Regions from separate parts of the Homo sapiens genome. Here region 1 is linked to region 2. Evidence: fine-mapped QTL for protein levels in blood plasma. A gene starts in region 2. The other region holds a variant in brackets. All regions are shown on one strand. Distances are from middle to middle.

Region 1 (9,609 bases), 34 kb before region 2:
AACCTGGGTGACAGAGCAAGACTCTGTCTCAACTAAAAAAAAAAGAAAGAAATGTATTTTCTCATGATTCTGGAGTCTAGAAGTCTAAGATTAAGTCCTTGGAAATTAATTTCTTCTCAGGCCTCTCTCCTTGGCTTGTAGATGACCATCTCCTCTCTGTGAACTTCACGCTGTGCATTGTCTATGTCTTAATCTTTTTTTTTTTAATAAGGACACCAATTATTTTGGATTAGGTCCTCCCAAATTACCTCACTTACCTTAATTACCTCTTTCAAGGTCCTGCGTCCAAATACAGTCACATTCTGAAGAACTGGGGGTTAGGACTTCAATATATAAGTTTTGTTTTTATCGGGGGAGACACATTTCATCACATAACAGTAGTAATGTAGTAATGTCCCCTTTTTCATTTCTGATTTTGACAGTTTGAGCCTTTCTCTCTAGCTTTCATCAATCTAGCTAAAGATTTGTCCATTTTGTTGATTTTTTTTCAAAGAACTAACTTTTGGTATTATTGATGCTCTCTATTTTTTTCTGTTCTCTTTATCTCTGTTTTAATCTTTATTATTTCTTTTCTTCTGCTTGCTTTACGCTGAGTTTGCTCTTCTAGTGTTTTAAGGTGGAAGGTTAGTTTAGTGATAGAAAATTTCTTCTTTTTTAACATAGTTATTTATAGATATAAATTTTCTTCTAAGCACTGCTTTAGTTGCATCCTATACTGTGTCTTATATATTGTGTCTTCATTTTCATTCATGTCAAAGATTTTCTAATTTCTCTTGGGATTTCTTCTTTGACCCATTGTTATTTAGGGAATATGTTGTTTAATTTCAACTTATTGTGAATTTCTCAAATTTCTTTTTGTATTGATTTCTTTTATTTCATGTGGTCAGAAAACATATGTTATATGATTTTAACCCTCAGAAATTTATTGAGGCTTCTTTTGTGGCCTAGAAAATGGTTGATCCAACCAGGTGCGGTGGCTCATACCTGTAATCCTGGCACTTTAGGAGGCCAAGGTGGGCGGATCATGAGGTCAGGAGATTGAGACCATCCTGGCCAACATGGTAAAACCCTGTCTCTATTAAAATACAAAAAATTAGCTGGGTGTGGTGGTGCGTGCCTGTAGTCCCAGCTACTTGGGAGGCTGAGGCAGGGGAATCACTTGAACTCAGGAAGCAGAGATTGCAGTGAGCCAAGATCACACTACTGCACTCCAGCCTGGCGACAGAGTGAGACTCCATCTCAAAAAAACCAACCAACAAAAACCAACAAAACCGAAAATGGTTTATCCAGAGAATGTTCCATGTGCACTTGAGAAAAATTTGCTTTCATTGGGTGGGGTATTCTGTGGACATTTGTTAGGTCTAGTTAGCTTATAAACAGTCTTCTGTAGTCTTGTTGATCTCCTTCCTAGTTGTTCTGTTCTTTACTGAAAATAGGGAATTGAAGTCCCTAACTATTATTTTTACATTGTCTATTTCTCTTTTCAATTATTTTAGTTTAGTTTTATGTATTTTAGAGCTCTGTTATTAGGTGCATTTATGTTTATGATTATTATATTTCCCTGATGGATTAACTCCTTTTGTTATTGTAAAATGTTCTTTATCTTGAGTAACATTTTTGTTTTAATGTCTATTTTGTCTAATACTAGTATAGCTACTCCAGCTTTCTTATGGTAACTTTTGTATGATATATCTTTTCCCATCCTTTGCCTTTTGGCCTATTTATAATTTTGAATCTAAGATTCATCTCATATAGACAAAATATAGTTAGATCTTGCTTTTGTGTCCAGTTTGATAATCTCTGCCTTTTGATTAAATTGTTTAATGCCTTAACATTGAACATTGTTATTGATATAGTTGGATTTATATCTGCCATTTTGCTATTTGTTTTCTGTATGTCTTTTGTTTCCTGTATTCCTCCTTTATTGCTTTCTTTTGGATTAAGTGAATATTTTCTAATGTAACACTTTAATTCCATTAATTTTTTTGTCTGTATATTTTTCTTTTTCTTATTTTTTAATTTCAATAGTTTTTGGGGGTACAGGTGGTTTTTGGTTACATGAATACGTTTAGCAGTGATTTCTGAGATTTTAGCACACCCATCACCCGAGCAGTGTACACTACCCAACAGGTAGTCTTTTATCCCTCATCCTCCTCTCAACCTTCTCTCCCAAGTCCCCAAAGTCCATCATATCATTCTTATTCCTTTGAATCCTCATAGCTTAGCTACCACTTATAAGTGAGAACAAATGGCATTTGGTTTTCCATTCCTGAGTTATTTCACTTAGAGTAATGGCCTCCAGCTCCTTCCAGGTTGCTGCAAAAGACATTATTTCATTCATTTTTATGGCTGAGTAGTGTTCCTTGGTGTAGATATACCACATTTTCTTTATCCACTTGTTGGTCGATGCGCACTTAGGATGGTTCCATTTCTCTGCAATTGCAAGTTGTGTTGCTATAATCATGCATGTGCATATGTTTTTTTCATATAGTGACTTTTTTGTTTCCTTTGGGTAGATACCCAGTAGTGGGATTGCTGAATCAAATGGCAGTTCTACTTTTAGTTCTTTAAGGAATCTTCTTACTGTTTTCCATAGTGATTGTACTAATTTATATTCTCACCAGCAGTGTAAAAGTGTTCCTTTATCACCACATCCATGTGAACATCTATTGTGTTTTGACTTTTTAATTATGGCCATTCTTGTAGGAGTAAGGTGGTACCTCACTGTGGCTTTAATTTGCATTTCCCTGATGATTAGTGACATTGAGCATATTTTCATGATTGTTGGCTGTTTGTATATCTTATTTTGAGACATGTCTATTCATGTCCTTTGCCCACTTTTTGATGGGATTATTTAATTTTTCTTACTGATTTGTTTGAGTTCTCGTAGATTCTGAATAGTAGTCCTTTGTCAGATGCACCGTTTGCAAATATTTTCTCCCACTCTCTGGGTTGTCTGTTTACTCTGCTGCTGACTATTATTATTATTATTTTTTGCTGTACAGAAGCTTTTTAGTTTAATTAAGTCCCATTTATTTATTTTTGTTTTTGTTGCATTTGCTTTTGGGGTCTTAGTCATGAATTCTTTGCTTAAGCCAATGTCTAGAAGAGTTTTCCCAATGCTATCTTCTAGAATTTTTATTGTTTCAGGTCTTAGATTTAAGTCTTCGATCCATCTTGAGTTGATTTTTGAATAAGGTGAGAGATGGGGATCCAGTTTTATTCTTCTACATGTAGCTTGCCAGTTTTCCTAGCACCATTTATTGAATAGGGTGTTTCTTTTTTCCCAGTTTATGTTTTTGTATGCTTTGCCAAAGATCAGTTGGCTATAAGTATTTGGCTTTATTTCTGGGTTCTCTATTCTGCTCCATTGGTATACGTGGGTATACCTGCCTATTTTTATACCAGTATCATGCTATTTTGGTAACTATAGCCTTGCAGGATAATTTGATGTTGGGTAATGTAATGCCTCCTGATTTTTTGTTGTTGTTGTTGCTTAGTATTGCTTTGGCAATGTGGGCTCTTTTTTGGTTCCATATAAATTTTAGATTTGTTTTTTCTAGTTCCATGAAGAATGATGATGGAATTTTGATAGGAATTGCACTGAACCTGTAGATTGCTTTGGGCAATACGGTCATTTTCACAATATTGATTCTTTCCATCCATGAGTGTGGGATGTGTTTCCATTTTTTTGTGTCATCTATGATTTCTTTAAGCAGTGTTTTGTAGTTTTCTTTGTAGAAATCTTTCACTTTCTTGGGTAAGTACATTCCTAAGTATTTTATTTTTACAGCTGTTATAAAAGGGATTGAGTTCTTGATTTGATTTTCAGCTTGGTTGTTGCTGCTGTATAGCAGTGCTACTGATTTGTGTACATTGATTTTGTAATTTGAGACTTCACTGAATTTGTTTATCAGATCTAGGAGGTTTTTGGATGAGTCTTTAGGGTTTTCTAGGTACATGATCATATCATTGGTGAACAGCGACAATTTGACTTCCTATTTTCCAATTTGGATCCCCTTTATTTTTTCTCTTGTCT[G/A]ATTGCTCTGGCGAGGACTTTTAGTACTATGTTAAATAGAAGTGGTGAAAGTGGGCATACTTGTCTTATTCCATTTATCGGGGGAATGCTTTCAACTTTTCCCCATTCAGTATGGTGTTGACTGTGGGTTTGTCATATACGGCTTTTATTACTTTGAGGTAAGTCCCTTTTATGCCTATTTTGTTAATGGTTTTTATCATAAAGCAATGCCGGATTTTATAAAATTATTTTCTGCATCTATTGAGATGATCAGATGATTTTTGTTTTTAATTCTGTTTATGTGAGAGATCACATTTATTGACTTGAGTATGCTAAACATTCCCTGCATCCTTGGGATGAAACCCATTTGATCATGGTGGATTATCTTTTTGATATGCTGTTGGATTTGGTTAGCTAGTATTTTTGTTGAGGATTTTTGCCTCTATGTTCATCAGGGATATTGGTCTGTAGTTTTCTTTTTTTGTTATGTCCTTTCCTGGTTTTGGTATTCGGGTGATACTGGCTTCATAGAATGATTTAGGGAGGATTCCCTCTTTCTGTATCTTTTGAAAAGTTTCTGTAGGATTGGTACTGATTCTTCTTTGAATGTCTGATAGAATTCAGCTGTGAATCCATCTAGTCCTGAACTTTTGTTGTTGTTGGAAATTTTTTTTATTACTGTTGAAATCTCACTACTTGTTATTGGTCCGATCAGGGTTTATATTTCTTCCTGATTTATTCTAGGAGAGTTGTATGTTCCCAGGAATTTATCTATTTCCTCTAGATTCTCTAGTTTGTGTGTGTAAAGCTATTCATAGTAGCCTTGAATGATTTTTGTATTTCTGTGGTATTGGTTGTAATATCTCCAGTTTCATTTCTAATTGAGCTTATTTGGATAGTCTCTCTTCTTTTCTTGGTTAATCTCATTTATCTGTATTTTTTTTTTTAGTTATTTTCTTAGTGGTTGCTCTAGGCCTTACCATACACATTTTAACTTATCAGAATCTGCTTCAGATTATACTAACTTAATTCCAACGAGTTATAGAAATGCTGCTTTTGTATAGCTCTATATTCTGTTCTCCTTTTGTGTCATTATTGTTATACATATTATATCTATATATGTTGCAAACCCAAAATAACATAGTTATAACTATTACTTTATGGAATTCTGTACCTTTTAAAGAAGCTGAGAGAAGAAAGGAAAGCAAGTATGTATTTATAGATTTTGTTATATTAACCTTCTTATTTATCATTTTTGGCTCTTTTTATTGTACCTGTGGATTCAAGTTACCATCAGCTGATATTTCCTTATTCCAGTGCAGCTTTGCTCCCACCTACTGGTTTTGTGCTATTATTGTAAAATAAATACATTTCTATATGTGTAGACCCAACAATACAATTTTAAACACATACACACACACACACACACACACACACACACAGAGCCCACAATTGCTTTTAAAATTAGTTAAGTAAAGAAAGAAGAAGAAATATGCATTTACACTATTGTTTTTATAATTACAAAATTATCTACATTGGTGCTCTTTAAATTTTGTTTGTGGGTTTAAGTTACTGTCTAGGCCATTTGCTTTCAGCCTAAAGAATTTATTTTGCTATTTTTTGTGAGGTGGCATGCCAGCAAGGAATTCTCTTAGTTTTTGTTTATCTAAGAATGGTTTTATTTTACTTTCATTTTTAAAAAAACAATATTGCTGGATATAAGATTCTTGCTTGACAGTTTTTTTTCTTTCAGCACTTTAAATATGTTATCTCAGTGCCTCTGGCCTCCATTATTTCTGATGAAAAGTCAATTGTTAATCTCATTGGGGTTCCCTTGTATGTGACTAGTATTTTTCTCTCGGTGATTTCAATATTTTCTTTATGTCTTTGGCTTTCAACATTTTTAAGATGATGTGTCTGGGTTAAATCTGTTTTTGTTTCTCCTAATTGAAGCTTGTTGAGCTTCTTGAACATGTGGATTAATGTTTTCCATCATATTTGGGAAGTTTTCAGGCATTATTTCTTAGATTTTTTTTTCTGTTTTCTTCTCTCTCTTCCTCCTTCAGTTACTCCCATTTTGCATATTTGGTACACTTAATAATGTCACACATTTCTCTGAGGCTCTGTTCATTTTTCTTTCTGCTTTTTTTCTCTCTGCTTTTCAAATTGCATAATCTTTATTGATCTGTATTCAAGTTTGCTGATTTTTTCTTCTTCCAGTTCAAATCCACTACTCAGCTCCTCTAGCAAATTCTTCATTTTAGTTATTATATTTCTCAACTCCAGAATTTCCATTTGGTTCTTTTAAAAAATACTTTCTGTTTTTATATTAATATTCTCTATTTGAGTGGACATTGTCATAACCTTATTCACTTCTTTAAGCATAGTTTCCTTTAGTACTTTGACCATATTTATAACAGCTGCTTTGATGTCTCTGTTAATTCCCCCATCTGGGCCCTCTCACAGAGTTTTTGTTGCCGGGTTTTTTTATTCTGTGGGTTATACTTTTCTGTTTCTTTGCATGTCTCATAATGCTTTGTTGTTAAAAGCTGATCATTTTAGATAACATATTTTAGATAATATATTGGAGCAACTCTGGATACTGATGCTGCCCTCCCCTCCACGTACTCCTTACTCCTGGCCAAGGCTTCTTGTTGTTTTTGGCTTATTTGTTTAGTGACTTTGCTTGACTATTTTGTGAAGTGTATTTCCCCATAATGTGAAGCCTCTGATTTCACTCCTCAGAGGGCACAGCCTTAGGTACATGTACAGTCAGTCATCTGGGGTGACAGAAGTTTTAACCGGCCTCTCTTTAATTTTCTCATTTCCTGATCTCTTTGCTAAGCCATCAGTCTCTGTTGGCATCACACCCAGCTGTCAGGGTACACTAATTACTGGCTGATTTTCTATTGTTTTTCTACAATGCCTGGAGTATGCAATGCTTCACAGTATGATCCAGATAAATTTGGGTCCCTTTGTAGGATTGTTTTGAGTCCAGTCTTTGGGGTTTGTTCAGACAGTGGAAGGACTCTTCTTAGCTATTTGTTTTGTTTTCTCTGGTAAACTGGCTGGCATATAGTTTATCCCATTATCTTTATTGTTTACCACCAAAATCTCCATTGTTTTTGCGAGTTCCCTTATGCTTGAACTTCTCTACATCCTGTTTTAAATCAAGTTAGTTTCTTGGGGGGTCGGGGGAGAGCTTCAGTGCTCTCTGTTCTTATGATCTACCTCTTCCTTTGGGCAAAATCTTTGAGTCACTGCTCAAGACCTGGGGGTAGGGGCTGTGGCTGGCTTCTCTCAGAGCCCTCCTGCTTTACAGAGCAGGGCTCTGCGTGGTGGCAGTAGCCTCTTGTCTTCTCAGGTTGCTGTTGTAGCATGGAACCTCTGATCCAAACGCAATTGGGGCTTCAGTAATTTCAGCCTGCATCACCTGGGGTAGTCTCCACCTATGAGTGGGGACTGGGTGGAGGAGAGAAGCTTCCATTCTCTCAGCTGCACTCATCTACAATTTAGCCTGTGCAAAATGGGGGCTGAGGAATTCTGGTGGCCTGCCTCTTCTGGGGAGCCATTGTATTGCTTGACTGGGAGCTGGATGGAGAGGGAGCTGTGTTTTCCTGGCTAAGTCCATGAAGAGTGGAGCTTCTGTTAAGTGAGTTGGGGGGATGGAGGAGAGAGGAAGTGAGTCATGGCTCAAGTGTCATAGATTCTCATTGTTCTTATTGGGAACAATTTCCAGAGACTTTAAATGCTTAAAAATCATTTAACTAGATATAAGTGTTTTGCTGGGGAGCAGGTCTGCAGAGCTCCTCATACAATCATTCTGGAAGTGGTCTCTGCTTTTTTCTCTTCCTTCTTTTTTCTTTCTTCCCTTTCTTTTTCTTTCTGTGTGTAGTTTCTGTTTTGTTTTGTTAACCTATGGATCAACAGCAGAAGATGTCAGATGTAAGAAATGATGGTAGGACGTGGGATGCTATTAGTAGGTATATCAGCTAATGTTGAAGACACTACTCTTAAATCAAGGAAAATATGATCAGAATAATAAATTTTTAAAGTATAGTGAACAAATTCTTCAGTAAGGCTGAAGGTTAAAAGTAAAAAGTTTCAAAGCAATACTTTTCTTGGCTCTTCTTTATAATAATTTATTGTCTAGTGAGCTACTAACCCTTTTTCTTTATGACTTGATTGCCCCCGTATGCTAAAATACTTGCTGTTTTACTTTTCCTTTCATTGACATTTACAATCCTTTGTCTTTTAGTAGTTTCACAAGCTTTGAAACAATGTTTAGATAATTTTAAAAAATAAAAATAAAACAATGCTAAGGGTACAATCATTGATGTTTTAAATATATCAGCTGCTATAAGGCACTTTGTCCAATTTTCATAATAATTTTGTCTTAATGGTGTTAAGAGCAAAGATTTAAGATTTACTTTCTTAGTGCCATAAAAATAAGAGCTATTCAGCTGGGTTTCTGAAATATTAAGTGCAATGCAAAAGTTTGTTTGCCTAATATCCCTGGACACCAGGCTTCCCAAAATATCCTGCCCCAGACCATAGCCACATCTTCCCACTAGATTCCTGGGCAACTAGAAACAATGGTAAAGGAAAACAAGGTCACACAATTTTTTTTGAGATGGAGTCTTGCTCTGTCACCCAGGCTGGACTGCAGTGGCGCGATGTCGGCTCACTGCAAGCTCAGCCTCCCTGATTCACACCATTCTCCTGCCTCAGCCTCATGAGTTGCTGGGACTACAGGCGCCCGCCACCACGCCCAGCTAATTTTCTTTTCTATTTTTCGTGGAGATGGGGTTTCACCATGTTAGCCAGGATGGTCTTGATCTCCGACCTCGTGATCCACCCGCCTCGGCCTCCCAAAGTGCTGGGATAACAGGCGTGAGACACTGTGCTCGGCTAAGGTCACACTAATTGTTAGCTGGGAGTGGACCCCAAACCTGTTGAAAGAACCCATCAGCTTTCCTTTAAGAAGGTAATGCCACAGACCACAACAGATAATTGAGGGTTATTCTGTGAGCTTCCACTAAAGCTAAAACATGTGTGGAAGGGACAGAAGAGAGGATAACAGGTTTGCTGGCCTGTTTACCACTTGGGGACGTTTGGATGGATGATGAAGAAGAAAAAGAATCAAAAGGACTGGGGCTCATCACAGGTGGGAATAGTATAATATTAGCTCTTCATTCAGAACCATGGTAGCAAAAAGAGAGAAAACTGCATCTGTGGACTGAATTATTCCCCTCAGCCCTCTACCCCAGTGTGTCTTCTTTTTGGGAATAGAGTAGAAAGCCAGGAAAATGGTGGGGATCTAGGAGGAAGCAGGCATCTCCTCTGACTTGCACGTCCCCCTGTTTCACTGTCCTTTGTTAACTCACTGTGTTTGACAGCCACATCTGTGGTCAGCCAGGGGTGCAGCTGCTCCTACTGGTAGCTAATGGCCATAGAACACCAGGGGCGTCTTAAAGCCCCTTCTGTGATCCGCACCACTGCTCCTGGGTATACTCCCAGGGTCTGTTATATGGGTAACATGCACCTCGCAGCAAGATCTCCTGAAATGGGTTAGGACAGGAATATTAGGT
Region 2 (9,313 bases):
TTAAAAGTCTTTAAAAAGTCTATTAAAAGTCTTTTAACAAACTTTATAAAGTCTATTAAAGTCTTTTAAATAGGAGTCTTTTAAAGAGGAATTTTAGGTTCATAGCAAAATTGAGCGAAAGGTACTGAGAGTTTCTGTATACTCACAGCCCCTACACACGCAGCCTCCCCACTATCAATATCCACACCAGAGCCATACATTTGTGGCTGATGAACCTGCACATCACTCTCACCCAGAGCCCACAGTTTACATCAGGACTCACTCTTGCTGCTGCATATTCTATGGGTTGGACAAACGGACAATGACATGGATCCACCATTAGAATATCACACAGAATAGTTCCACCTCCCCCAAAATCTTCTGTGCTCCACCTCTTCCTCCGAAACCCTAGCAATCACTGCTCTTTTTATTGTCTCCATAGTTTTGCCTTTTCCAGAACGTCCTGTATTTGGAATCTTACAGTCTGCAGCCTTTTCAGATTGGCTTCTTTTGCTTGGCAGTGTGCATTTAGGGTACCTCCATGTCCTTTCACGGCTGGGTCTCCTTTTTTACAACCTCTTATACCCACGTTTCTTTTTGCTTTTCCAGGAAGGAGAAAGATGTGGAAGAGACCTTTGCTTTCCCCAGGACAAACCTCTGTCCCCATGTGCAGTGGCAGTGGGGGTGGTGGCTGGTGAGACCTCCAGGCAGGAACAGGAAGCAAGCCCTCTCCCTGCTCACCCTCCTCTCTGAGCTTTCCCCACTCCACCCTGGCCGGCTGTTGCCTGCCACCAAGCACCCGGGCACCTTCTGTGATGTGCTGGGCTCCCGCCCTCACTTCCTGGCCCTCCTCCCTCTGTGTCCTGTTTCTTCTGCCCCTCACTCTGTGCCCTCCTTCCACTGCTTTTCTGTCCTCCAGGTCAGCCCCTTCTTGACTCTCCCGAATACCCATCAGAACGCACCTGTGTGCTCTGCTCCCAGTTCGCTCTGCTTCCAGCCTTTGCCCTTAAGCTGATCTCTGACTCCTTCTTGAAGTCAATCAGACCCCGCCCTGCAGGGAGGGACAAGGTGAGGCCTGAGCTGGCCTAGGAGGGGCCTATGGCTTGGGAGGTGCCTCTGTGGGCAGCTACAGTGGCGAGAGTGGGTTTGAGGAAGCTGGCTGTGCAGCACACTTGTCCTGAGTCTGTTTCCAGACAAGTGCCGCCTTCCACAAGAATTTGCCTTGGCTTCTCTGTGACGAGCCATGCAATGCCACGATCTGTTAATTTAGGTGGCATATTTTAGAGGCAGAGATAAGGACAAGGGGCCATTTCCTAGCCGGTAGTCTTACCTGAAGCTGACAGATGGACCAGGGCAGGGGCTGATAGAGGCTGGCACCCACAGCAAAACAGAGAATTCAACCGCTCCTAGAACAAGACACCAGAGGCAGAACCGTTTGGGAGGAGCAGCCACTCAAGACGAGTTGCAAACTTTGGCGGCTTTTTAACGATCTTTGAGACCCTGACCAGATTCAGAAAGGAGGAAGGACTTGGCTGGGAGAAAGCTGGCCAGGGTAGCTAAGGCTATGGCACAGAGCGGAGAGGGGAGAGGACACTGGGGCAGGTAGTGCCCATGCAGTGGGCGGACAGTGCTAACGCCCACTTAGTCAGGTTGAGAAGGGCGAACGTGGTGACCGGGGTAACTCCTAGTTGGAAAGGAAAGAATAGAGTCAGGAAAAGTTCGTGGCTCAGGAGTGCCAAGGGGTCATCATCCCCCATTACCAAGGTTTGGTTGCTCAGGGATTGCACACCGCTTTGTGGTTATAGGGGTTTTGTATTTCTCATCATCATCCTTCCTGCTGCCCGCAATGCAAGCCATTTCAGTGTGCACTGGCAGCTAGATGAAGGAAGGTGAACACACTTAGTCAACTTGAAGCTTGCTTGCAATTCCAGAAGGTCTTTGGTGTTTCTGAGGAAGGGGATTTGCCTTCCATGTTAAAATGATGATTGATACAAAGACAATGAATGCTAACGTCTTTCACCCTCAGTGTTCAAGAGGACTGTGAGTTATGTATTCTCAGTTATGGGCTCACCAACTCCGCAGAGAATTGGGGGGATTTGGATTAGAAGAGAGTTTCAGGAACAACCTGATTTTGAGGACTACAATCTGTTTCCATTCCACAAAGGAAACTGCGACAAAGTTAATGGAGTGAGGATGGATCGAGAAAAGAGACTTGCAAAGATTTAAAGGGAAAGGGGCCACATGCACATGATGGAGTTAGACCCTTTCACACACGGAAACGGACTCGAAAGGGACCAAAGACATACATGTAAGAGCTAAAACTGTAAAACTCTTAAAAAGAAAACATAGGAGTAAATCTGCTTGACTTTACATCTAATTCTTGGATGTGACCTCAAAGCACAAATAACCAAAGAAAAAAAAATAGATAAATTGACATCATCAGTATTAAAAGACTTTTATGCTTCAAAGGACACCCACAGGAAAATGAAAAGACAAAGCATAGAATGGGAGAAAATATTCACAGATTATATATCTGATAAGAAAATTATATCTAGAATGTAAGAAGAACTCTTCCAATTCCATAATAAGAGGCAAATAATCCAATTAAAAATGAGCCAAAGATCTGAATAGATATTCCCCTCACGAAGATACACAAATGGCCAATATGCACATGGAAAGCTGTTCAATGTCATTAGTCATCAGGGGATGCAAATCAAAACCACCAGGAGATACCACTTTATATCCACTAGGATGGCTAGAATTCAAAAGCAAGGTAATAACAGGTGGGGCCAGGAGGCAGAGAAACTGGAAGCCTCACAGGCAGTTCATGGTGAGATGACGCAGCCACTTCGGAAAACTGTCTGGCTGTTCCTCAAATGACTTAACGTTGTTATCATATAACCCAGCAATCCCACTCCTGGGTATATGCTCAAGAGAAAGGAAAGCCTATGTCCATGGGGAAACCTGTACCAGAGTGTTTACTGCAGTGTTATTCACAATAGCCAAACAGTGGAGACGACTCATATGTCTCTGCATTGATAAATGAGTCAACAAAATGTGGTCTATCCACTCAATGGAACATCATTCAGTCATAAAAAGGAAGGAATCACTGTTACATGACACAATGTGGATGAACCTTAAAACCACTACGGCAAATGAAAGAAGCCAGTCACAAAAGACCACATTATTCCATTTATATGAAACGTGTGGGGTAGGTAAATCTCTCAAGCAGATGAGAAGCACATTAGTGGTTGCTTAGGGCTGGGGTGCGATGGAGGGATGGGGTGAGAGCTAATGCTTATGGGGTTTCTTTTTGAGGTGATTAAAAAGTTCTAAAATTGAAGGTGATGGCTGCATGTACCTGTGAATGTACTAAAATGCATTGAATTATACACTTTAAATGGGTGAATTGTAAGGTGTGTCTCAATAAAGCTGTTTTCAAAAAGTGACAGGACTAATATCTAGAATACACAAGGAGCTCTTGCAAATCGGTCAGAAAGAGGCAGCAGTCCCCATGGAAACCTGGTAAAGAATCCCAAGGGTAACTTGCAGAAGAGGCACCCCAAAGGGCTAAAGAGCACATGGAAAGATGCTCAAATGTAGTGGTTACTAGAAAAATGCAAAGCATTCAACAACGAGATATAATTTTTCATGGGAAAGCTGGATGATGCCAAGTGTTGACAGAGATGTGGGGAAACGGGGACCTTATGTGTGGTTGTGGGAAGGGGTTATTGATGGCACAGCCATTCTGGAGGGCACTTTGCAGGGTGTGGGCAAATGAGAGAATTGCATGCTCTCCAGACTCAGGAACTCTGTCTCTTGGAATATATGTCAAAGAGGTTCTCACCCAGGCCTAGAGGTGGGATGCAGACACAAGTGGCTGTGAGGCTGGGGAGCTGGAGGCCATCGGGGTGCCACCCCCAGGAGAGTGGTCACTGCACACCATGGGGTGTTGTGCAGTTGGCGGGTGCAAAGGCATGGATGTCCACACAGCCACTCCTGAGAAGGGATCTCAGGATCATGGAAGACGCAGGATGAGTGATAGCACGATGCCATTACACAACAGGAAACACGTACACACCAAGCCACCCGCTTTCAAGAGTGGATACACATTAGAATGGATGTGAGGGCGGGGGTGGGAGTGGGAATACATACATACACACGTGAGAAAGACAAGAGAGAGGACTTGTATGGGCCAGTGATGACGACATCCATGCACTGAGGTAGAATTAATTCAGTTCTGCAATGGACGTCCATAAATAAATAAAAGAAAGGCCTGGGAGACAGACTGAGTGACTACAGGTCCTCACACCAGGGTAGATGTGGCTGAGGACAGGAACCACCACAGGTCCCGCACCTGGAGGATGCAGTGAGGGCAGGGAGGAACACTGCGTGTAGGCAGGGAGCTGAAGCACACCAGAAAGAATTGCATTTTTTATGTAACGGGGCCCATAACATGTACATAGAAGGATTAATATTACAAGGTGGCACAGAGTAAGTGCAACACATTGATGCCCAAGGGCCTGTCCTGCAAGGGCTTGGAAGGAGATTCCCCTCAAGACTGCAAGCCCCCAAGTCCTGGGACTCTATCCCCTCTGCAGTAGCCTCCATGGCTGCTGTCACAGAGGACCACACACAGGGGCTTAAAGTAACAGAAATGGGTTGTCTCACAGTTCTGGAGGCCTAAAGTGTGAAATCAAGGTGTAGGCAGGGCCATGCTCCCTTTGGAGGCTCAAGAAGAGGGTCCTTCCTCTCCTCTTCCAGCTTCTGTGTTGCCAGCAATCCTTGGTGTCCCTCAGTGCCTTGGCTTGTGGCCATGTCACTCCAATCTCTGTCCTCACATGGCGTCCTCCTTGTCTCAGTACCTCTATTTTCAAGAACACCAGTGATTGTATTGAGGGCCTACCCTACTCCAGTATGACATCATCCTAACTAATTCATCTGCAACGACCCTATTTCCAAATAAGACCATATTCTGAGGTTCCAGGGAGGACATGAATTTTTAGGGGGATGCTATGCAACCCAGCACACCTTCTTTACCTGCCTCATTGCAGAGAGCATGGTCCTTGGCCAGTGAGTGAATTCCAAGCCCTGTGCCCTGGGGGGCTGCTGCCCCGAGGATCCACAAGGTAGAGCCTGTGTGGGGTTTTGCGATACACGAGGGACTTAGGAGGAAGAGGACACACTGGGCAGGGGCGGGGGTGGGAGTGGGAGTGTGAGTGGGGGTAGGAGCAGAGTCCTGAACTGAGATGTGGTGTGTTTCCCAACATGGGAAAAGGTCAGGGCTGATGCGGGGAGTGGGGTGCGGTTTGTGTCGCTGTGCTGAGGAAGGGCAGGTGGTGTGTCTGGAAGGAGGAGGTAGAGTGAGGAACCTCCCTATGCGCTTCTAGAGAAGTGTGGGGGTGAAGAGGGGCTTGTGGGAATCCTATAGAGACAGAGGAGATAGAGAAGCCCTCTAGAGAGGCACTGGGAAAGCTGAGGCGAACAGAATCCTTGTGCAGAAAAGCTGGTAAGTCTGTTGTTATATACATATATATATTTGTAGAGACGGGGTCATGCTGTGTTGCCCACGCTGGTCTTGAACTCCTGGCCTCAAGTGATCCTCCTGCCTTGGCCTCCCAGAGTGCCGGGATTACAGGCATGAGTGACCATGTCTGGCCAAGGCCATTGTTTCTGCTCATGTTTGTGTGCACTGTGGCTGGGGAACTTGAGATGTCACACTTGAAATTTGGGGTCTGTTGCCTTGCCACCTCTCTTCCTGCTCCCTGGCTGGGGCTGGCCCCTCCATACTGAAGGTGACCTTGGTTTCTGAGGTGTGGTTCCTCGCTTGTGGAATTAATGATTGCTGACAGTTAGAGATAGCACTTGGGCAAAGACCGTATCCTGTCAGTTGTTCGCTGCTTGCCTTTCTTAAGGAGGTCCAGGCCTAAGGAGGGGCAGCGCTATATACAAAGGTGGAGCTAGGAAGCCAGAGGTCACAGCTCACCATGTCCTGTGGCTAAATCTTGATATTTTGCTTTCAGAAAGTCACAACCTGTCAGAGCTAATTTGAGAGGATCTAGAGAGTGGGATTGTTTCCACGAAACCACAGAGAAGAAACAGAGCAACCCGCGCCTGCACCAGGACCTACTGGGGGTACACCAGGGAAGCTCATTCGATTAGATCTTTATGTGAATGAAGCCAACATCATAGCTTTTGTCCCTGATTAGGGAAGGTGGGTTTGTAAAAAAGAAAATTCCACCATTTTCTGAGGCAGGGCCATTGGTCATAAGGGGCCCTGGTGAGGTCCTGATGGCTTGGGCAGCCCCACCCAGAGAGGGGAGAACGTTCATCTCCAGGTGCTAGCCCTGCTTCTGCCACTGGCTGGTGGGCTTATACTTGACAGTCCTTAATTCATTCAACAAATGTTTATGGAGCACTCATTCTGCACCAGGGAGACACAGCAACGAACAAACAAAACCAAAGCCTCTATGGGGCTCATATTTTAGTGAAGACTATCCAACAGCGAAGCTTGTGAGCCTTCACAGCAGACCTCCTCACTGGGACAGCTGATGACAGGGGCTGGCCCTGGGCTGGCATCTGGGAACTTAACTTTCAGGATCCTGCCCCGCTGTGCCGGCCTGCTGACTGTTTTTACAGACAATGTGATTAGTGAACACCTGCTTTCCTATTGGGAATCTGGAATCTTGTTAGTTGTGGTGGGCAGAGAGTGTGCCTACGTGACCAGCCCCAACCTCTGCCCCAGCTCTGAGCTTCTACTTCCCTGGGGAGATGCAGGGCGCAGGGTATGCTCTGTGCAGCCTTCATGGGAGGGAGAGCTCAGCGAGTCTGTGCCCTGACCCCTCCAGACCCCGCTGTGTCCTTGCTGTGTGTTGGCCGTGGGTATAACTGTCTGCTTAGTCTGGTGAGTCCTAGTGAAGCTCTGACAGCAGAGGTGCCATGAGGTGTCACGGGTGTTCAGAGAGGTGTCCTGCAGGCGTTGGCGGCAAGTGGTGACCCAGTGTGTTCCAGTGGGGCACATGCTCAGGGGAAAACAGAGCAGGGGCATGTGGTGGGGGCAGGGCCTGACCTTTCAGAAAGGGGACTCCTCTTCTCCTCAATGTGGTGAAGGAGTGGGCCACAAGGATGCCTGGTGGCGGGGGCATTTCAGGCTGAAGGAGCAAGGAATGCAAAGTCCCTGATGCAGAGTGAGGGGACTGCTGTCGCCAGGGGCAAGTGGTGGCAGGTGGATTCAGAGAGTGACCAAACGCCCTCGCCTCCAAGGCTGTCACTGGGATTTTACTCTGAGCCACTTGGGAAGCCTCTGTCAGGTTCGTGCAGAGGCCAAAACTGACCTGCCTCTAGCAAGTGCTATCTGGAGGTGCTGGGGGAGACAGAATGCAAAAGAGTGAAGGCTGCAATGATGGCAGGAGCAGAGAGCAGGCCGGGGGGTGGTTGCAATAGTCTTGGGGGGCAAGGCTGGTTGCCAGGTCAGGGTTGCAGGGGTGGAAGTGATGAGAAGTGGCCACATTCTGGATGTAGCTGGAAGGGAGGCTGGGGGAGATTTGCTGAGGGCTGGGATATGAGACTCCAGAGAGAAGAGCCAGGTGACCCCAAGTTCGGGCAGAGGTTCTGCTCTGCTGGGGCAGCCAGGAGCTGAGTCAGGATGCTTCAGTGTGTGAGCATGGCTGGCTGCTGGCTGAGCCCACTTCTGGACTTTGATGCTGGATCCCAAGGCACATGAGGGGCAAGGGTGGAGGGAGCCCCAAGGAGACCTTTGTGAGGAGTCAGAGACCAGGGCTGGGTCCTCCAGGCGCTCTTTGTATCTTCACTGACCATGCCTGGCAGTGCTGGCCAGCTGACAGCTTCCCCGTCAAATCCCACATTCCTCCCTCCAGCTGCAGCTGTGTCTGGCAGCCGGGGCTGGGCAGTAGACACAGCAGAATTCTTCCTTCCTCCTGGCTCTCTTTAGTAGCTACCTCACGAAATGTGCATTGGATTCTTAAAGAAGAAAAAAATCAAGAGGCCAGAAAATCAGGAAGCAGAAGTTAAAATATGTTGCTGATCTTTGAAATAAAGAATTTGTGTTGGTAGACATGTGACCTTGTGTGGTGCAGGGATGTATTTGTGTTAAACCATTTTGGTGACTATGACATTCCAGGTGCATATTGGAGGTAGCATGTAGGACTTCAGAAATCACCAGAACAGTCACTGCCTCTGTGCAGCCCTTTGCTGAGCACAATTTTGGAAGGAAATATAGCAGCATGGTTACTGGTACAGGATATAGAGCCAGAAGGCCTGAGTTTGAATCCAGGTTCTACTTCTTTTAGTTGGATGTTATGTGGGAAAAGCGGTTAACTTTTCCTTTTAGAGACGGTGATTTTCTCTGGTGGTATGATTTGATTTCTTGCTTTTTAATTTTTGTGCATCTGTTGTATGTTTTTTGATTTGAGATTACCACAGGGCTTGCAAATACTCTTACAATCTATTAAGTTGATAACAACTTAACACTACTTGCATAAACAAGCAAACTAAAAAGCAAAAAGAACACTAATAAAGACTTTCTCTTTATCTTTGTTCCCCTACTTTTTGTTCTTTTTTTTTTTTGTTTGAGACAGCATCTCACTCTGTATCTAGGCTGAAGTGAGGTGCATGGCGTGATCTCAGCTCACTGCCACCTCCGCCTCTGGGGCTCAAGCGATCCTCCCACTTCAGCCCCCAAAGTAGCCGGGACCACAGATGTGAGCCACCATGCCAGTTAATTTTTGTATATTTTGTAGAGATGGGGTTTCGCCATGTCATCCAGGCTGGTCTTGAATTCCTGAGCTCAAGCAATCTGCCTACCTCTGGCCTCCCAAAGTGCTTGGATTACAGGGGTGCCCTGTGGGATTATAGGCAGAAGCCACCATGTGAGGCCTTCCCCCACTTTTTAACTCTTGATGTTTCCATTTATATCTTACCGTACTGTCTATGTTTTGAAAAGTTGTTATGATTTTTGATTGGTTCATATTTTGGTCTTTCTACTTAAAAGTAGTTTACACACCACAGTTACAGTGTTGTATTCTGTGTTTTTCTGTGTACTTACTAATACCCGTGAGTTTTGTATCTTTAGATAATTTCTTATTGCTCATTAACATCCTTTTCTTTCTGATTGAAGTACTCCCTTTAGCATTTTTTTGTAGGACAGGTCTGGTGTTGATGAAATTCCTCAGCTTTTGTTTGTCTGGGAAAGTATTTCTCCTTCATGTTTGAAGGATATTTTCACCAGATATATAATTCTAGAGTAAAAGTTTTTTCCTTCAGCACCTTAAATATGTCATGCCACTATCTCCTGGCTTGTAAGATTTCCACTAAA

What was found. A credible set is the group of variants that fine-mapping cannot tell apart. PIP is the chance, under the fine-mapping model, that this variant and not a neighbour inherited with it causes the effect. Protein levels are from antibody-based Olink assays in UK Biobank. Linkage for the fine-mapping came from a reference panel and not from the study's own genotypes, which makes the PIPs less certain.
Region 1: its variant is the best candidate, but not a certain one, in a credible set for the plasma level of the AOC1 protein (UK Biobank, PIP 0.51).

The regions. Positions count from the first base shown.
Region 1 is chr7:150,877,586-150,887,194 of GRCh38, reverse strand. No RefSeq gene overlaps it. Among named protein-coding and RNA genes, the nearest start is that of AOC1, 30 kb to the right of the region's middle. The variant G/A (reference allele first, on the strand shown) is at 4,040.
Region 2 is chr7:150,844,187-150,853,499 of GRCh38, reverse strand. It overlaps AOC1 (amine oxidase copper containing 1), which reads right to left and starts at 983. Exons shown (of 5, transcript NM_001091.4): 1 at 942-983. The region is part of intron 1 of LOC105375567 (a long non-coding RNA gene); the gene reads left to right. RefSeq lists an enhancer at 830-1,401.